Linked DNA regions of Homo sapiens: region 2 is linked to region 1. The links come from fine-mapping of genetic effects on gene expression. A gene starts in region 1. The other region holds a variant in brackets. All regions are shown on one strand. Distances are from middle to middle.

Region 1 (5,516 bases):
GGAAGAACAGTACTTAGGCGGCTTCTGTCCTGGCCTCACTCCCAGGTACCAGTGAGGGCAGTCGAGAGGTGGGGCATCTAATCCCAAACGCTCTCCTCCATCGTCCCAGATGGGGTGGGTGGAAGAGGGCAGGGAGATGGGGGAGGTAGAAAAGGTTCTCTCTTCTCATGTATTTATGTATTTGTTTATTTTGAGACAGAGTCTCGCTCTGTCACCCAGGCTACAGTGCAGTGGCACAATCATAGTTCACTGCAGCCTTGACCACCTGGGCTCAAGCCATCCTCCCACCTCAGCCTCCCAAATAGCTGGGGCTAGAGGCACCTGCTACCACGCCTGGCTAAGTTTTTAAATTTTTTTTGTAGGAACAGGATCTCACTATGTTGCCCAGGCTGGTCTCAAACTCCTGGGTTCAAGCGATCCTCTCTCAGCCTCCCAAAGTGCTGGGATTACAGGTGTGAGTCACTGCGCCCAGCTTGTCACTTCTTTGACAATTCATTTCAGCTCCTTTTTGAACTGGGAGCATTAGAAAACTGAACACCCCCACCCTTGCCCTGGGCATTTTGCAACCGGGATTGTATTGTATTAAACATATCAGTCATTGAGTCACTTCCTAGCATTTGGAAACCCTTAGGTTATCTCGGACCTGCCGGTAACTGCATGTGTTGTAAATGGGGTGAGTGACTGCAGGTTTTCCTCCCTGCTGCCTCCCCAGCGTCTCCCTCCAGATTCAGATCCAGAGGCCCAGGGTGGGGCCCAGGAATCTGCATTGTTGCTTTTACAACTCAAGCCAAGGTGAATACACTGGCCCAAGTTCCTTGGCATGGCATTCAAGGCTTTCCACAATGCAGCCCAGCCCAACTTTCCATCCATCTCTGGCTTCTGCTTACTCCCTAGGTTCTGTACACAGTGCCCTTTCACACTTCCCAGCCTCCGCCCACTCTGTGCCTCCCTTTACCTCCCATCCTCTACCTGCCAGACTCCCCTGCTCTACTCACAAGGCTAGCTCAGGGTCCCTGGGTGCTGGGAAGCCTGGCCCAGTGACCTTTGAAGAGCTGATCCCCTCTGGCTTGTGGTCCTGCAGCCGCTGGTGCATCCGCACCCTCCCAGCCCTCACGTCTGTCTTCCTGCAGAGGGGGTGCTCCTTGAGGCAAGCACCAGTGCCCAGAACACCACCCAGGGCCTCGCAGGAGCTGAATGAGTGCTAGTGAGTGAATGAGTGGCTTAGCAGGTCACCTCCCATTCATGGGCTGGGCTAGCCGAGTTCTAAGAAACCCCTGCAGGACCCTGGAATGCCCTAATGTGCAGGACACCCTGGCCAAACCTACACCTGAGCCTGTTTCCCCATTGGACTTTGGGATTTTGATAAAGGCACTGAGGTCCCAGCAAATGCCTTGGGCTCCTCATAGGCTACTGGGGGCAGGGAAGTGCAGTGGGTCATGCCTCCCAGAGGGCTGGGGAAGGGGAGAGACTAGAACTGGAGCAGGGTTAGCGCTGGCCTGGGGGCATTCCTTGAACCCCAGAAGCAGACAAACTAGTGGTCCCCTATCTTGCTTAAGTCTAAGAAATCCAGATTTTGTTTAAAAAAAAAATCAGGGCTCAGTGGCTCACACCTGTCATCCCAGCATTTTGGGAGGCCGAGGTGGGAGGATCACTTGAGGCCAGCCTGGACAACATAGTGAGACACCATCTTTATAAAATAAATTTTTAAAAATAAAATAAAGATCAGATTCCTGGGTTTACTGAATCTGAATCTCAGGGCAAGGACCTGGGAATCTGCATTTTAAGCAAATCTCCCGGAGATTCTGGTTATTGTGGGGGCTCCTCAAACGTGATTGAGAGATGGAGAGCAGCTGGCTCTGGCGTGGGATTGCCTGGGCTCTAGTCCTGCTGCCCCACGGACTCCCAAGTGGGCGGCACCTTAGGGCAAGTTACTAAAGCGGCTGGGGTCTTGGTGACCTCATCTGTACAATGTCCATGACGCACAGCACCGGCCACAGAGAAGTTAGTGGGAGGTTTCACTTGGCATCCTTTCAGTAAAACAAGTCCCAGTCAATGATCGCGATTATTGGGTCCATCTGATATTCGGAGGCGGAGACCGCCCCGATTCACTGACCTACTACTCAAATTTACAGTTCTCAGAACTTTCCCCACCCTTTCTCTCTCCGAAGTCCTCACTGACTTCCTGAGCGCAGGGCTGGGCGCCACTGCCCGGAGAAGAGGGGCTGCGTGGCCTCCGACAGCCTAACCCCAAGCCCCCCACCCCCGCAGGCCGTCCCGGCGGAGGTCTCACTGCCAGCACCGGCTTTGGGGAGCGCTGGGTGTCCACGTACCCCGGGCCTCGCGCCTCCGCTGCCGTTCGGCGGCAAGGACGGAACCGGGCGCTGCTCCGCGCGCACCGAGAGTCGCGGGCTCGGGCCCCGCTCGGAGTCGGGGTGGTCCCCGTGGTCCCCGCCGGCGGCCGAGCCCTTCCCGAACGCCCTCAGCCGGCGTGCCCGGGCGATACCTTCGCAACCCGATCCGCGCGCGGGCCCCGGATCCTACCTGCGCGCCCCTGCTCCATTCGCCGTCCGGGCGCCCAAGCGGGAAGTGGGGGACCCCTGGGTGGCCCTTCCCTGGCCCGCGCCGCGCGGGGCTTTCCTGGGCGCGGAGACCCAGCCCGCCCCGGCTTCCTGCTCCCCGCCCCGGCGCCCGGCAGATTTGCATGCGCCGCCCCGCCCGGCGCGCCCGGCCCGGGTCCCGGCCACCTCGCGCCCCTGTCGCTGTCCCCGCCGCCGCCGCCGGACAGTCCGAGCCGCCGTCCTCTCCTGGGGGCGACCCCAGCACCTCGCTGGGTGTCTTGCCGCGCGCTTCCTCCCACGCCGTAGCCCGAGGTCACGCCCAGCGGAGAACTCTGCAGTGGATCCCCTTGGTCTCGGAATAAAACGCCCACGCCGACCAGGCCTCCAGGACCTGCTCCTGCCTGGCCTCCGCGGCCTCTTTTGCGCCGGGGCAGTTGCGTTTGGTGGGGGAGGGCTGGGCGACTGGAATCCTCCTCCCCTTCCTAACAGCCCGGCTTCCAAGTGAGAGTGGTTGCACATTCTTCAATAAATGTTTACCCAACTCCTACTCCAGCCACATTTGGATAGTAAAACAGCCCTTCAATCAGTAACTAGTACAATCTGTCGGGCACTGCAAATGTTAACTCGTTCAATCCTGGCAACTACCCTATAAGGGAGTGATACTATCACCGGTTTTACAAATCAGGAAACTGAGGCACAGAGTCCTTAAGAAATTCAAAATGGGTTGGGCAAAGTGGCTCATGCCTGTAATCCCAGCACTTTGGGAAGCTGAGGCGGGAGGATCACTTGAACCCCATAGTTCGAGACCAGCCTGGGCAACCCTGTTAGCGAGACCCCTATCTACAAAAATTGACATTTATAAAATTTTAAAAAAGAAAAGAAAGAAACTCAGAATCACTCTGCAGGTAAGCAGGAGCAGGGGTGGAGCTGGGATTCGAACACAGGCCCCATAGACCATTAACGTCTGGACACCATAAGAACCCGGATGCAGCCAGATGACTGGGGGGAAAACACTCAACAAAGTATTTCAGGTCAGGAGGGCCCAAGAAGAAAGTAGGGACCTCTTAGACCAGTGGGGCAGGTGGTCTGGAAGAGGCTTTTTGAGTAGAGGCCATTTGAGCTGAGACTCTGAAGAGCCTATGGGGGAAGACTTGTGTAGGGAGAGGGAAGAGCTAGTGCAAAGGCCCTGTGGGAACCAGCTCAGCCTGCAGGAGGAATTGCTGAAGGCCGGCATGGCTGTGGAGCCCTGAGTGAGGAAAGAGCGGAGACAGGGGAGGTGGGAGATATTTGGACTCACACTGGGCAGTGCTGAGAACCCAGAGAGTAATTTGACCCCCTGCTGCCCTCAAGGAGCTCTCAGTTTGAGGGTGGAAGCCAAGGACTGCCCAATGGGATCAAGTGCTGTGGTGGAGGGTGAGGGTTGGCTTCCCAGGGCAGGGGCCACTGCACGTCAATCATTCTTTTTTTTTTTTTGAAGATGGGGTCTCATTCCATTGCCTAGGCTGGAGTGCAGTGGGTGATCTCAGCTCACTGCAACCTCCACTTCCTGAGTTCAAGCAATTCTCCTGCCTCAGCCTCCTGAGTAGCTGGAATTACAAGCGTGCACCACCACGTCCGGCTCATTTTTGTATTTTTAGTAGACATGAGGTTTCACTATGTTGGCCAGGCTGGTATCAAACTCCTGACCTCAGGTGATCTGCCTGCCTCTGCCTCCCGAAGTGCTGGGATTACAGGTGTGAGCCACCACGCCTGGCCCATATGTCAATCATTCTTTCATGTACTTGGTCTGTCTTGGTCCTACTGTGTGTCTAACCTTGTGACAAGCGCTGATGACGCAGACCTGAAGACATGAAACAGACACAATCCCTGCCCTCTGAGACCTTACAACCAAGTGAGCAAGACAGCCACCAACCCACCCCCGGAAGTGACAGTAAAGATAAGTCAGTTCCCTGGGGTCAGGGATGGCTTCCTGGAGGAGGTGACCTCTGACCAGTGCCTGAATCAATGCAGAAAAACATGCAGGTGGAAGGGACAGCATGAGCAAATACCTGGAGGTGGCGTGGGAGTGTGGAAAAACTCCCATCCTTCGGCATCTGTTTGTGGATGCCTCCATATGCCAAGTCGTGAGCTGGGGGCTAGGGAGAGCAAGAAATAGATCCAGCCCCTGCTTCCTAGCCCTGAGGACCTGGTTGGGGCACTGACAAGTGAGCAGACGTAAGCAATTGAAGTGAACAGATGTAAGCAATTGAGTGTAATAAACCCCGTACTGGGGGCAGCCCAGGCAGACGCTAAGAGGACTAGGGAGAGAAGGCCACAGGAAGGGCTTTCCTGGAAGCTTGGGTTTCAGGAGGAATAGGAATCCTCTGGATTAGGTGTGACTTCCACTCCCGTCCACACTCATACTCCCTCACACTCATTACTCACACATCCGCACACCCACACGGTTGATGCTTCATCCCAGGCAGTTCAGCCCTGCAAGCTGCCTTTGTCCTGTCTGTGTTTCTGAGTTTGTGCCCCATGTCATCGGGAGACGACAGCAAAAGTCTACCTTTGAAGTCCTTTGGGAATGTATGGCTTGGGCTATATCCCCTCCTGGACTCCCAAACTGGGCTCCCATCCTGTTTTCCCAGTCAAGTCATCCTTCGTCGGTTTCCTCGCTTGCCTCTAGACTGCCGGCATTGGCATACCAACTCTGCTACGTATTGACTATGTGACTTTGGGCAAAGTAGATCATCCTCCCTGTGCTTCAGTTTCCCCATCTGTAAAATGGGGATAATAATAGACCCACCTCATAGGGCTATGAAATGGTGAAATGGCAAGGTACGTATCGCAGTGCCTAGAATAGTGCCTGGCGTGGATTAGGCATTCAAAATGTCAATTGCTGTTCTTATCAGGATGAAAATGAGAAAGAAGCAAAGTCGAAGCCTGTTGCCTTGGTCTGTTGCTTGGTTGTGAAAT
Region 2 (5,000 bases), 37 kb before region 1:
TGGCAGATACACCACGGCAGGTGTATCTAATGGCAGGATTGCCATTAGAGGCATCCTATGATATAAAAGCCCAGAGACTCAGCCAGGGGAAGTGTCTGGCCACAGGGGAAGAATGGAGAGTGGAGATTACCATTGCTTAGGCCTCTTGATACTCACAGTTGTGCCACTTGGTGCTGGGGCTCCACTCACTCCAGGTGGTGTTATAGCACTGAGCCCAGGCCCTCACCCGTGCCCTGTAGGAAATCCCAGACTTCAGGGTGCTGGCTGCGATGCGGAGGGAGGGTTCTAGGTAGGTCACGTTATAGATTCTGAACTGGTAGAGAAAAGGGAGATGTTAGGGCACCAGCCGGGGGCGAGGGGCACCAGTGCCCACCCTGGTTGCTGTCGTTAGCTGACCCCACCATGTTTAAGAGCCACCAGCCTGGGTATTTGGTTGTTCGTCCTGTTCAGGCCATTGCTTGCCACCTCTGTAACTGTGACCAGGCTACAGCAACATGCGTCAGGCTCCTCGACTAATTAGCTGTATGTTACTTAGGCAAGTTGTTTAACCTTTCTGAGTTTTCGTGAGATAATTCAATCTCATCTGTAAAACAAGGGTAAGAGTCCCTACTACCACTTCCTGGCTGTGTGACCTTAAGTAAGTGACATAACCTCTCTGGACCTCAATGTCCTCATCTGCAAAATGAAGATAATAAAAGTGCCTATCTCCCTTCCCGCAGGGTTGTGGTGATAAGGAAATGGGTTAATATACGTAAGTATTTCAAATAGGGTTTGGTATACAAAAAGCACTGGGTGATCTTTCTAAAGGACTGGCAGGGTCGAGGCATCTCTCTCTGTCCTTCATGGGCTTCCTAGTGTCTCCATGGTCAAGTCCAAACTCACTGGCCTAGAATCCAATGCTCTGCCCAACCTAGCCTCTACTGAGAAGTGACTTCCAAGATCTATTGTTAAGTAAACAAGGGAAGATGCAGATGTGTATGTGTTCTCTGCTTCTTTTTATGTTTTTTGTTTGTTTGTTTGTTTTTTAAAGAGAGATGGGGCTGGGCATGGTGGCTCATGCCTGTAATCCCAGCACTTTGGGAGGCCGAAGTGGGTGGATCACTTGAGGTGAGGAGTTCAAGACCAGCCTGGCCAACATGGTGAAACTCTGTCTCTACTAAAAATACAAAAATTAGCTGGGTGTGGTGGCGGGCACCTGTAATCCCAGCTACTCAGGAGGCTGAGGCAGAAGAATCATTTGAACCTGGGAGGCAGAGATTGTGGTAAGCTGAGATCATGCCACTGCACTCCAGCCTGGGTGACAGAGTGACGACTTCGTCTCGGAAAAAAAAAAAAAAAAAAAGAGAGAGAGAGAGATGGCACAGTGATCACTGCAGACAAACCTAAGATGGCCCCGATGATCCCCACTTTGAATCACATCTTTGTGTCATCTGGTCTTCTCGAGTGTGGGCAGGACCTGCTACTTGTTTCTAACCCACAGAATATGGTAAAGGTGATGGGATATATAGAGGATTTCATGGATGTGATTATATTACAGAAGACTGTAATATCCTACTTGCTAGGCAAGTCTCTCTGCCTTGATGGCTTTGCAAAGGGCACATGGGAAGGAATTCAGGGTTAACTACAACCAACAGCCAGCACGAAACTGAGGCTCTCAGTTCAACAGCCTGCCAGGGACTGAATGTCACCAATATTGTATGAGCTTAGAAGTGACCCTTCCCCAATTGAGCCTCAGATGAAACTGCAGCCCCATCCCACACCTTGATTATAGCCTCACGAGACTCTAAAGCAGAGAACCTGGCTAAGCTATGTCCAGACTCCCAACCACAGAAACTATGAGATAATAAATGGGTGTTGTTTAAAGCTGTGAAGCTGGTAGTACCATTATTATGCAGCAATAGAAAACTAAGACAGCGATGACTGAACACACACATTTGCTTGTATAGACATAAGCTCTCTCTAAAGGATGCACATGCCCTCTGCCTGCCCTAACCTTGCCTCCCTTTCCCTTCTGGCAAGAGACAGACAGCAGTGGTCAGTCTCTGGGAAGAAAAACAGGAGGCTGGAGTCGGGAGAGAAACATGTTTCCATTCTAAGTCCTTTTGTACCATTTGTATTTTTATTTTGTGTAACTATTACTTTTACCCTCCAAAAAAGCTTTAAAAAGTGATACATGAACGCTATATTCATGACTGACCCTGATGGCAAGTGAGCAACCTGAGTTCTCATCCTGTCACCCCTCTCCCTGCGAGATCCAGGGCTATGCACCTCCCTCTCCTCTTCCTCAGCCCCCGGCAGTTTCTTCCTGGTTACTGGCAGCTCCATTTCTGCTTGTGGTTGGAAGCACATTTGGGGAAACCTGGTGCAAAGTGAGCCAAGGGGAGGTTTTTTCACAAGAAAGAAGCAAAGTTCCAAAAGATTGCTGGAGCAACTACAGAGAGTTCAGAGATTTTCCTATTACAGAGGGAGCTGAGGGTGGGGTGTGAGTTGTGGGGAGACTGGGGAAGGGAGAGAAAATTCTCACTCTCTTTTGTCTTTCTTTCTAAACATGAGCAAACAAGAAGCAACAGCTAGATGTAAGTTACCGAAGAAATCTTACACCCTGGAAGGGAGCTGGGAACTGGGAAATGTTTTACTAAGAAACAAAAGAGAAATCTGAGCTTCCAAAGAACTACTTGCGGTTTGTCTGTTTTTTAACAAGAAGGACAGGTGTTTGGGAGACCATCTCTGAGAGAAATGTCCATGGGAGGAAAAAGAGCACAGGCTTGGGAGTTCAAATACTGGGTGCAAATCTCAGATCTGGGCTGGATGCGGTGGCTCAAGCCTGTAATCCCAG[C/T]ACCTTGGGAGGCTGAGCCAGGGGGATCACTTGAAGCCAGGAGATCCAGACCAGCCCGGACAACATGGCGAGACCCTGTCGCTACTAAAAATACAAAAAATTAGCCTGGCGTGGTGGCCTGTGCCTGTAGTCCCAGCTACCTGGGAGGCAGAGGTGGGAGAATCACCTGATCCCAGGAAGTCAAGGATGCAGTGAGCCATGATCACGCCCCTGCATTCCAGCCTGGGTGATAGAGTGAGACTCTGTCTCAACAACAACAACAACAACAAAAACTCAGCCCTGCCATTTCCAGCTGTGTGACCCTGAGCAATGTGCCTGGCACATAGTAGGCATATAAAATATGGAAACCATTATGAGGCAGGCATTCAGGGCTCTAACTAAACTTTTGGCTTTGTTTGGTGCTTTATCGCTACACATATTCCCACATCCCCCAACCCCATAATCCTCAAACATTCCATGAATTTTCACACCCATAAACCTTTTATCATGCAGTTCCCTCTGCCTGGTCTACCGTTCCCTTCTTTCCCCATCTAGAAAACTCCTATGCATCCTTCAATGCCCAAGCCAAAACTCCCCCTCCACTATGGAACCTTGCCTAGAAATTATCTAGGGGAATGAATGAGTAGCTCTAGCCCCAAAATTCTATAGTAAGTTCCTAATGTTTCTTTCTGGAATTTATCCCACTCAGTATGAGCCACAGTTGGTGCCTATAGTGCTGTGGCAGATGCAGGTGGACACCCGCCCAGCTTTTATGCCATCGGGTTTAGGTGCCCACTGCTTAGGACAGAACTCCACTGCCTGCAACTCCAGGGCCAACCCTCATTAGTCTAAGCCAATTGTGCCAATCCCATCACCTGGCCTATCATTCATCAGAGGGGAGCATGTGGCCAAGCTCTGGCCAATCACTAAATTCTTTATGTTCAGCTCTGTTCTTGGGAAGGGAGAGATGGGGTATCTCAGTTGCCACTGTTCCACCCACAAGAGAAGCTGGACTTCATTCTTCTGCCTCAGACCTGGTATCTGGAGGCCTGTGGCATCCCTGAGCACCAACATACCCCTAAGCCATAGCCCAGGCATGCTGACCAATCCAATCCCATGACTGGCATCTGGTGCCACGTCTTAAACCTGGCTGGCATTTTAGCCAGCACAGTCCTGCTTCCTCTTCCCCAGTTTCCCCTGGGGAAGCCACTCCTGCCTTATTTTCAGTTCATCTGGTTTGGATGGAGCTGAGCCCACCTGCAGCCCTAGAGGCAGGTATGTGACTCCTCCCTGGACAAGCAGGGCCCTCCACCAGCACCCTCTCTCCACCCACAGCCAGTGATTGGTTCAGAGGCTGGCACAGCATCGAAGCCAGGCCACTGAGCAGCAGCCTTAGGACTCTTATTAGAACCGTCAAGAAAAAAAACCCTTTTCCCACTGTGGCTTTGGGATGTAGGCCTGGAGCAACTAGTAGGCATATCTGCCACTACATGAGGGAAGAGCCTGCCTAAAAACGAAGCCAGTACAGAATAAAGCAGGGCGCAGAGCTGGACAGGTTCCTAGAAGCTGGATCCAGCCATGCCTGAAGGCAGATCTAGAAATATGAAAATATTAAATAACATATCTTTGGACTCTGAAGGTGGTACCTTTCTCTTCCCCCCAGCCCATCCTTGGGACTCTCTGTAGGTCTTGCACAGGCCTGGGGCATGAGAAGGAGATTTATTGACCAAACAAAACTTGCCCCACTCTCTAGCATCTGTGCACTCCTTCCCCCCATGCCCCCCGCTTTCTGAGCCTCTGCTGTGTGAGCCAACTGCCCCATTCCTGCTCTTTCCCCATACCTGGCCCAGTGCCAAAGGGGAAACCAGACCTGAGAGATATAAATCGACACCCCTGGCTTGGCCAGATTGAGAGGAAGCAGTGACAGACACCAGCATGGGAGCTTAAGGTGGCGGGTGCCTGCTCCCTGAGAGCCAACCAGGCCCAGCCTGGGCCCCTGGGATGCACAGAGCCGGCCCTCACAAACCTCAAGGAACAAATGACAGACCAGTGTGTGGGACAGCGGGCAGATGGGGATCTCTGTGGCCTGGGGCACTCAAGAGAAAGGGCACATGGCTTTTAGGACACATGTGGGCCAAACAGGGGAGCTCATCTGTATCACACACCTTGTACTGTCATAGCCCTG

Evidence for each region. PIP is the estimated chance that this variant, and not a neighbour inherited with it, causes the effect. A credible set is the group of variants that fine-mapping cannot tell apart.
Region 2: its variant is the best candidate, but not a certain one, in a credible set for the expression of IL4R in whole blood (TOPMed, PIP 0.82).

Annotation. Positions count from the first base shown.
Region 1 is chr16:27,311,046-27,316,561 of GRCh38, reverse strand. It overlaps IL4R (interleukin 4 receptor), which reads right to left and starts at 2,588. Exons shown (of 11, transcript NM_000418.4): 1 at 2,542-2,588. RefSeq lists silencers at 1,848-1,897, 2,338-2,547, 2,568-2,867 and enhancers at 2,645-3,375, 4,198-5,397.
Region 2 is chr16:27,347,853-27,352,852 of GRCh38, reverse strand. It overlaps IL4R (interleukin 4 receptor), which reads right to left. Exons shown (of 11, transcript NM_000418.4): 7 at 157-313. Among named protein-coding and RNA genes, the nearest start is that of IL4R, 36 kb to the right of the region's middle. The variant C/T (reference allele first, on the strand shown) is at 2,837.